Linked DNA regions of Homo sapiens: all the other regions are reported to be linked to region 2. The links are microRNA targets in miRTarBase. Many come from high-throughput screens and were not tested one by one. Region 2 holds a microRNA gene; each other region holds the end of a gene's coding sequence.
Evidence for each region. The annotated mature microRNA hsa-miR-512-3p reads AAGUGCUGUCAUAGCUGAGGUC and lies in region 2 at 1,789-1,810, opposite strand. An mRNA with a match to its seed (bases 2 to 7 or 8) in the 3' UTR can be bound and repressed. Matches are read on the target gene's strand: a 7mer-m8 pairs with bases 2 to 8, a 7mer-A1 pairs with bases 2 to 7 and ends in A, and an 8mer does both.

Region 1 (3,123 bases), not on the chromosome of region 2:
TGTTCAGCTCATTCATTCATTCCATAGGTGCTGAGCCGCACCTCCAAGGCTGCTCCCAGGGGTCAGGACAGTGGTTGGGAAGGAGGAGGCAGGTGGGCGGTAGCCAGTGGGACACAGAAGGTGATGGGGCCACAGAGATAGGTCTGTGTGCAGGGCCAGGGCACCTTCGTGCCCATGCAGGGAGGTGGGCAGGCCCAGCAGGTGAGGGCCACACCGCTGGAGAGGACGGAAGTGCCAAGCAGCCGCTTCCCTGTTGTTCTGCAGCTCCCTGGTCAGCACCAATGAACACCTGCTGCAGGAGCTGAGCCAGGTGCGGGCGCAGCACAGAGCCGAGGTGGAGCAGATGCACTGGAGCTACCAGGAGCTCAAGAAGACCATGGCCCTGTTTCCACACAGCAGCGCCAGCCATGGAGGCTGCCAGGCCTGCTGACTCCTGCCGAGAAGCTGGGCCACCCCTTAAGCTTCCTGGTAAAGTTACATTGTCTGCACCTTTGTACTTCTTTATTGAGTGTACTGGCTGGCAAGAGTTCTCTCTTCTGTTGGTAATTATTTAGGATTTTTGGAATGTATTCAGGACCTGTAGCTTGGTTTTCTAAAGCACCTCGTAAAATGATATGATTACTCCAAGCCCTCTGCATGTTTTCAGACAGAACACATTGACATATTTTGAGACAAACTGACTATTAATCTTGTATCCAGTATCCTGAGATGAAGTAAATGCAGTGTTCTACTGCCTGATGTGAAAGAGAGCTATGTATGATAATTAAAGAAAATAATTTTCTGTGTAACAAGCAATCTTTATTTAATAAACAAATACATTGTTCTGAAAAGTTAACTTTTTCAGTGGCTGTATACAAATTATAACTGAGTTTGTCATTGAGTTTTTTATAGAACAAGCTGTGCACCATGATAGGTGAGTGGGAATAATTAAGTTCAAAGACTTAACACAAGTGACACTTATAGATGTGGGGGAAAAAACCTTAAAAATATTGTCTTATGATATTAACATATCACAGCGGAAACATCTACCCAAGCCCTGGCTCGCTCTCTTGTTTGCAGTGTAGTTCTGAAAATTATGTCATAATAGGACACAAAACTAGATTTTTAGTTTGGAAACTTCATATCTTATGTCATACTTGCTGTGATTGGTAAGACAAGGTCATTTTTTAAATGACGTTCAACTGATTTGGGAAGAATGAGCAGGCCTAAGAAGAAAATGCTCTGTGCTAGCTCTGTGTGTGTGTGTGCCCTTGCTGTGTGTGTGTGTGCCCTTGCTGTGTGTGTGTGCTGTGTGTGCGCTAGTGTGCGCTTGCTGTGTGTGTGTGCTAGCTGTGTGTGTGTGCTGTGTGTGCGCCTAGTGTGTGTGTGCTAGCTGTGTGTGTGCTAGCTGTGTGTGTGTGCTGTGTGTGCTAGCTGTGTGCGCTTGCTGTGTGTGCTCTGTGCGCGTGCACTTGCTCTGTGTACTAGCTGTGTGTGCATGCTAGCTGTGTGTGCGCTTGCTGTGTGTGTGCTAGCTGTGTGTGCATGCTTGCTGTGTGTGTGTGCTTGTGCGCTTGCTGTGTGTGTGTGCAGTTGCTGTGTGCTAGCTGTGTGTACGCTTGTGTGTGCGCTGTGTGTGCGCGCACGCACCCTGTGTGTGTGCTGTGTGTGCACGCGTTGTGTATGTGCACTTGCTATGTGTGTGCTTGTGTGCTAGCTGTGTGTGTCTGCTAGCTGTGTGTGTGTGTGCTTCTGTGTGTGTGTGTGTGTGCGTGTGGATTGTATCCCTGGGGAAATCAGAGGTGGGACTCTGCTGTCTCTTCCCCGAAGAGGACTTGCTAGGCTTCAGGCTGCCCTCTTGTGTCACCTCTCTGTCCAGTTGTGGTCCTAACAGGAAAATGTGTCATACCAAATTTATTTTCTGTAGGGTTGGGATGGGGTTAATTTGTCATCACGTAATTTATGTATGTAAGAGTATTAGAAGATGTTAATATTAATCCACTTTAAGCTTATAGATGCTTACCTCGTTTGGGTTTCATTGAGCTTCTTGGACCTGTGAGTTCATATTTTTCACCAGATTTGGCAAAGTTGCAGCCACTACTCATATTTCTTGTCTGACCCCGTCTCTCACTTCTTCCTCCCTGTCCCCATCTGGGACTCTAGTTAGCTTTCTGTTAGACTGTGATACTGTCTCTCAGGTCACTAAACGTGATGCTTTTTCATCCTTGTTCTCTCATCCTTTCCTTTAGGTGGTTTTATTGTCCTGTTGCGAGGCTTACTAATCTTTTCTTCCACTTGCCTAATTTGATGTTAAGCTTGTATAGTGAATTTTTTATATCAGAAATTAGGTATATTTTTGTTCTAAAATTCCATTTGAGGCTAGGCGGGGTGGCTCACACCGTAATCCCAGCACTTTGGGAGGCTGAGGCAGGAGGATCACTTGAGGCCAGGAGTTTGAGACCAGCCTGGCCAACATGGCGAAACTCCATCTCTGCTAAAAATGAAAATTAGCTGGGCATGGTGGTGGGCACCTGTAGTCCCAGCTTCTTGGGGGGCTGAGGCAGGAGAATCGTTTGAACCTGGGAGGCGGAGGTTGCAGTGAGCCAAGATTGCAGCACTGCACTCCAGCCTAGACGACAGAGCAAGACTCCGTCTCAAAAAAAAAACAAAAAAACTCCATTTGATTTTTTTCATTAGTTTTATATCCCATTATGTTCACGTTTCCATTAACTGCTTAACCATGTTTTTAACAGGTTTACTAGAAATTCCCAACTGTTCCAAAGTGGTGGTACCCGCAGGCCCGACTGCTAGTTGTGTATGACCACGTCTGCCGGTCCATGTTTTCAGCACCCATTGCCTGAAGTGTTAGCACCTTCACTCCGGTGGGTGTGGGGTAGTGGAGGGAGTGGGGTGGTGGAGGGCGCGGGGTGGCGGAGGGCGCGGGGTGGTGGAACGTGTGGGGTAGACCTCTTTCTGGTTTCATTGGCTTCTCCTTGTTCAGCACCTTCTCATGTGTCTGCGGCTCATTGGGATTTCCTGTTTGTAAAGTACCTATTCAAGTATTTTCCCTACTTTTCTATTGGATGGTCTGTCTCATTTATTTGCAGGTGTTATTTATGATTCTGGGTAGTAGTGCTTTGTGAA
Region 2 (3,123 bases):
GCAGAAGGATTGCTTGAGCACAGGACTTCGAAACCAGCCTGGGAAACATACTTAGCCCCCTTATCTACAAAAAATGCAAAAATTAACTGGGTATGGTGGTACGTACTTATAGTCCCAGCTACTCAGGAGGCGGAGGTGGCTCACTTGAATCTGGAAGGCAGAGGTTGCAGAGAGCCAAGATCTGGCCACTGCCCTCTGGGCACCGGTGTAGTCTCAGCTACTCGGGAGACTGATGCAGAAGAACTGCCTAAACCCAGGAGGTGGAGGTTGCTGTGAGTTCCCACAACTGCACTCCAGGCTGGGCAATAGAGTGAGATCCTGTCTCAAAAAATGAAAAACATTTTTGCTCTACAAGATTACATTTAATTGGCAACTACCTAGCTTTGAACCAGCAAGGGGAAAAGTAACAGAACGGCATGTCTGTCTCACTAACTTCTTGTTTTTTTGAGACAGGTTCTTGCTCTGTCCCCCAGACTGCAGAGCGGCAACACAGCCGTCGGCTCACTGCAGCCTCAACGTCCCTGGCCATACACAACTGCAGCATTTTGGCTAAACCAGCATGGCTTACAGAGAACAAGTAGTTCTTTCTCTCTCTTTTTTAAGACAAGCGTCTTGCTCTGTTGCCCAGACTGGAGTTCGGTGGCGCGATCTCGGCTCACTGCAACCTCCGTCTGCCGGGTTCAAGCAGTTCTCCTGCCTCAGCCTACCGAGTAGCTGGGACTGCAAGCCTGTGCCATCATGCCCAGCTAATTTTTTTGTATTTTTAGTAGAGATGGGGTTTCACCATGCTGGCCAGGCTGGTCTCGAACTCCTGGCCTTGTGATCCGCCCTCCTCGGCCTCCCAAAGTGCTAGGATAATAGGCGTGCGCCACTGCGTCCTGCCACAATAGTTCTTTCAATGGTAAGACTAGTTGAAAACCTGAGTTAGATGTGTATCTCTAATCTTAGTGATATTTAAATGTAAATAAAAATGTTATGTCTGGAACACACTTGGGCTGCTTGGGATATATTCAGATAAATACTATTATACATAATTTATAAATAAATACTATTTATTTACTAATAGGGTATCAGAAAGGTACAATCCCTATGTCTCCAGGTTGACATAGAAATTTTCTACTGGTCCGAAAGTTGCATCTGTACGACTGGCCAGTTGCTTCTGGTTCAACAAGGACCTAACCTGCCAATCACACAGGACAGCTGGGGGCTGACATTCCAAATTGTAATCTTTACTAGGCACAGAGGCTTAGCAGGCCTCTGGTTTAATAACACACGAAAGTAACTGCTTGAAGTAGCAAGGCACTCACTCACAAGGCACCTATAGAGTTGGTACTTATGGTCTGGAAATAGCCACATTGTAAGCTGACCACCAGTTATAATTACCAAATATTGGCAGGGCACAGGGGATCATGCGTGTAATCCCAGCACTTTGGGAGGACGAAGCAGGAGGATTGAGCCCAGGCCTCAGCTTGCTTCTTTCGCTGTGTTGTGACTTGCCTCGAAATTCTTTCCAGCAAGAGATCCAAGAACCCGCTTTTGGGGTCTGGATTGGTTGCCTCTTCTCTGGCAATGGTGTGACCCAGGCTATCCCTGAATCCAAGCATTATAGCTGCTACGGAACCCAGCCTCACAACCCAGAGACCGTGGTCATTTCCTTAAAGCTGGGCTGAAGTCCAGTTTATGGCGCAGAACAAGCACCACGGTTTAGCTTTTACCTGCAGTGGCTCCTGGAGCCCCCCGCCCCCCCTCCCCCCCATGGTGTTTCTTCGGTGCTCGCCTCAGTCATTGGACCTCAGCTATGACAGCACTTTCATTCTGGCACCAGAAAGTGCCCTCAAGGCTGAGTGCCACAGACTGAGAAGTACCCTCCCTGTATTGTCCAGTACCTGGAAACTGCAGGCACATCCTCTATGCAGAAGATAAGAGATTTAAAACTGACTTCTGAATGTTGCTCAATAGCGAAAGGTAGATTGAGCACTCTCTCCAGTTCTCAGGAACAATGCAGAGCCTTGTAATGCAAATCCTAGGCCTGCCCTGGGGCTCATGCCTGTAATCCCAGCACTTTGGGGGTCCCCAGCCTGAATAACACCTTTTACATTACTTTGTTTTCTTTTTCTTTTTCTTTCTTTTTTTTTCTTAGTCTTGCTCTGTTGCCCAGGCTGGAGTGCCATGGAGCGATCATCAGCTCACTGCAGCCTCCGCCTCCTGGGTTCAAGCAATTCTCCTGCCTCAGCCTCCTGAGAAGCTGGGATTACAGGCGCCTGCCACCACACCTGGCTAATTTTTGTATTTTTAGTAGAGACAGGGTTTCACCATATTGGCCAGGCTGGTCTCGAACTCCTGACCTCGTGATCCGCCCACCTCAGCCTCCCAAAGTGCTGGGATTACAGACGTGAGCCACCGCACACGTCCAGCACCTTTTAAATTACGTGGACAGGCCCGGTGTGGTGGCTCACCTGTAATCCTAGCAGTTTGGGAAGCCAAGGCAGAAGGATTGCTTGAGCACAGGACTTCAAAACCAGCCTGGGAAACATACTGAGGCCCCCTTCTCTACAAAAGATTTAAAACTCAGCTGGGTGTGTTTGTGCACACCTATAGTCCCAGCTACTCTGGAGACGAAGGTGGATCACTTGAGTCTGGAAGGCAGAGGTTGCAGAGAGCCAAGATCTGGCCACTGCACTCCACCCTGGGCAACAGAGTGAGACCCTGTCTCTTTAAAAAATAAAGAAAAGGAAAAAGCTGCCTTTGTGGACACCTAAATAAAAAATAAAATGAACCTAAAACCTACTGGGTGCAGTGGCTCAGAGGCCGGGGTGAGAGGATGTTTGTGCCCAGGTGTTGATGACCAGCCTAGACAATGGTGGGAGACCCCAACCCTACAAAAAAAAAAAAAAATTAGCTAAGCATGGTCCTGTATGCCTGCCATCCCAACTACACGGGACGCTGGGGTGAGGGAGGTTGAGGCTACTGTGAGTCACGATCTCACCACTGCACTCCAGCCTGGGAGACAAGCCCATCTGGGCAACACAGTGAGACTCAATCACTAATTGAACAAAATCCAAAAATTTTAAAAAATCAATAATGCGGTCCAGGAATGGTGGCTCACACCTGTAAACCCAGCAC
Region 3 (3,123 bases), not on the chromosome of region 2:
CATTCTGTCTCCATCTCTTGCATCTGCTTTCCTTTGCAGGTTGACCTCATTTTCCTAATCCCATTGCCCCCATGAAGCTGGAACCATGGCCAGAGGTAGCCTTGGGAAGAGAAAATCTCATCTCTAACCTTTGAGTGGAAAATGCTAAGGAATGGTTCTGAATGGCTCAGCTGGACCCCATGCCTCTCCTTGGTCTAATCATGGGAGCCAAAGGGATGGGTCACTTACAGCCAGCTTGGGGCATTTGCCCCGTTGCTGTGGCCAATGCCCTTAACAGAAGGGCAGAAAAGATCATGGGGTCAGCAAAGAGAGCAGCCTCCTCAAAGCTCAGAGGAGTGTAGGCACAGGTGCCACAGAGCAGCACGAGACCATCCTTGTGCTCTACAACCTAGTACAATTGAGTTGGGGAAGGTGTTGATTGATACTCATATGAAGACATTACGAAGTAAACCCTGAATGTGTCTGGTGGAATTCAATGGAAGGAGAGAGAACATCAGAGATTGATGTGTTCAGAGACGTGAAGCCACGGGGCAGGAGGAAGCCCTGGGCCAGTGGTGAGAAATCGGGCTGGATAGCAGCTATACAGGGGGGCCTGGAAGCCACAGGGGGAAGAAGAGTAGATTCTACACCACTATAGGTTCCTTATACATGAGGAGAGACAGCCAGGTAAGGAGTATGCTGGGGAGAGGGGGAAGAGCCTCAGCAGCAAGTGAAGGTGGCACCACTCCCTCCATCACCGCCCATGGGTTCCCAGTAGCCTGGAGAAGGCCATGAATTTCAGCGTTCCCTGTGTGACTCACCAATAGGATGCGGGCCTCACCATTTTGCCTGTCTCTGCCTGGGTTTCACTCACTTTATACCAGTGGGGCTCTCAAATTGCGGTGTGCATAAGACTTACAGAGGGAACATGGGTAAAACACTGGCACTGGGGACCGTCCCAGGGTGGGCGGGATAGTTCAGTGGGTCTAGAGAGGACCTGACAGTCTGCATTTTATTTTTATTATTATTATTTTTTTGAGATGGAGTTACGCTCTTGTTGCCCAGGCTGGAGTCAATGGCGCCATCTCGGCTCACCGCAACCTCCGCCTCCTGGGTTCAAGCCTTGGCCACCCAAGTAGCTGGGATTACAGGTATGCGCCACTACGCCCAGCTAATTATGTATTTTTAGTAGAGACCAGGTTTCTCCATGTTGATCAGGCTGGTCTCGAACCCCCGATCTCAGTTGATCTGCCCGCCTCAGCCTCCCAAAGTGCTGGGATTACAAGCATGAGCCACCGCGCCAGCCAGTCTGCATTTTTCTTTTTTTTTTTTTTTTGAGACGGAGTCTTGCTCTGTCACCCAGGCTGGAGTGCAGTGGCACAATCTCAGCTCACTGCAAGCTCTGCCTCCCAGGTTCAGGTCATTCTCCTGCCTCAGCCTCCCGAGTAGCTGCCCGCCACCACGGCCGGCTAATTTTTTGTATTTTTAGTAGAGACAGGGTTTCACCGTGTTAGCCAGGATGGTCTCAACAGTCTGCATTTTTAATAGGCTGCCCCAGGTGATTCTGATATAGCTGGTGCAACTTGCTTTGCTGAGTGGTGCAACAGACTTTGAGAAAAGTTGCACAGGGTAATGTCAGAGAGGAAGGAGGAAGAGATTTGTGGCTGTTGCTATTTGTTAGAAACTGACTTCTGATTGTCTGCAGTAGACCCTGCAAAGCTCTGAGCTGGGTAGGAATAGGGGCCACAGGAGCAGCATGAAGCACAAGCTGTAGCACCTACCAGCCCCTGGGTTGGGGACGACATGGGATGATGCTCATATGAACAAACTGTGAAGTCATCTCTCTCTGGGTGGGGTGGAATTCCATAGAAGGAGACAGTACAGAGAGCATATCCCCAGTCTAACTTGGGGATGTGGATTCCCAATGAGCCGAGCAGTCATTTTAATTTAATGAGCAAATGAAAACAGTGGGCAAAAGAAAAAATAAATGTTTCCAGGACTGCGGATGGGTGGGAAAGAAATGACTGGAAAGGGGAGAGTCAAAAATCAGGGAAACAGATGAAGTGAGGGGTAGGAAAGAAAAAGAGAGCAAGAGGAAGATTCTTTTTGAAAGGCCACTTTATTGATGGAGATAAAACTGAATGGAGTTCCCCACAGCCCTCCCCTCACTCATGTTAGTGGCTTCACTGGGCATCTGAGACCAGCGTGGCCTGTCACCCACATAGACTAGGCTGCTTAGCCCACCCAGCCTATCACACTGCCCGCTCCACGTTGGGCAGCCACATAAAAACACGTCACAGCTCAAGAAGATCCGTGGATGCACCTCTGAATCCCCCCCAATGGTTTCTGTGCATTTTTTTAATATTGTACAAAATATGTTAACTAGGAAAAATTAGCTGTACTGTGACAAGTGCGGGACGTCCTATTAGGATTACCGTCCCCCAGGCATTACTTCTTATTGCAGTAAGACCTCTAAAAGGTGGAGCTGTACAAACCAAAAAAAATCTAAACGATTTTAAGAAGAGCAGCAACTCAATACTGCTTTAGTTCATTTAAATTTTCTTTCCCAAAAATACACTCCTAAATATACAAACTATACAATCTTATTATTTTAATGCTGGTTTTTTTTGTTTCTGTTTTTGTGTGTGTGTGTGTTTTGTTTTTGTTCTGTTTTTAATAACAACAGTAGGACCCAAACTAAAAAGTCGGTTCATCTTCAAACCAACAAGAGCACTAGAGGACTTGTGACTCAGTACCTTCATATAACACCACATAAATAACTTTAGCCACAGTCAATGTTCACAGCCTGGTCAGTGGAACAAAGGAAATACTTTTCTGGCGATTAGACGTCATCTGCAGAGAGAGCTGGGATATTCATCCGAGGCCGGGTGAAAAATGCCATCTTCTCCCTATAAGAGAGGCCATCCCTTTAGAGCAGGGGTTTTCAACCTCGCTCTACAGAGATTCTGGGCAGGATAATTCTTTGTCGTGGGAGCTGTCCTATACATTCGCTGCAGAATGTTTAGCAACGTCCTTGGCCTCTTACCCTCTAGATGCTGGCTGTATCCTTGACCTCCAGTTATGACAACCCAAAACGTAAGCTCATTGCCAAATGTTCCAGGGGGAAGGGGAGAAATCACCCCT

Region 1: miRTarBase lists CEP72 as a target of hsa-miR-512-3p. The part of its 3' UTR that is shown has no 7-base or 8-base seed match.
Region 3: the mRNA of WWC1 is a reported target of hsa-miR-512-3p. Seed matches in the 3' UTR shown: 7mer-m8 at 1,249-1,255.

Annotation. Positions count from the first base shown.
Region 1 is chr5:652,724-655,846 of GRCh38, forward strand. CEP72 (centrosomal protein 72) reads left to right here. Exons shown (of 12, transcript NM_018140.4): 12 at 265-830. The coding sequence ends at 430. Among named protein-coding and RNA genes, the nearest start is that of TPPP, 39 kb to the right of the region's middle.
Region 2 is chr19:53,665,416-53,668,538 of GRCh38, reverse strand. It overlaps MIR512-1 (microRNA 512-1), which reads right to left and starts at 1,860; the gene lies at 1,777-1,860. All of the region lies in intron 2 of LOC107985342 (a long non-coding RNA gene), which reads right to left. RefSeq lists enhancers at 1-271, 1,160-2,048, 2,049-2,936, 2,937-3,123.
Region 3 is chr5:168,468,716-168,471,838 of GRCh38, reverse strand. It overlaps WWC1 (WW and C2 domain containing 1), which reads right to left. Exons shown (of 23, transcript NM_015238.3): 23 at 1-2,888. The coding sequence ends at 2,822. Among named protein-coding and RNA genes, the nearest start is that of RARS1, 16 kb to the left of the region's middle.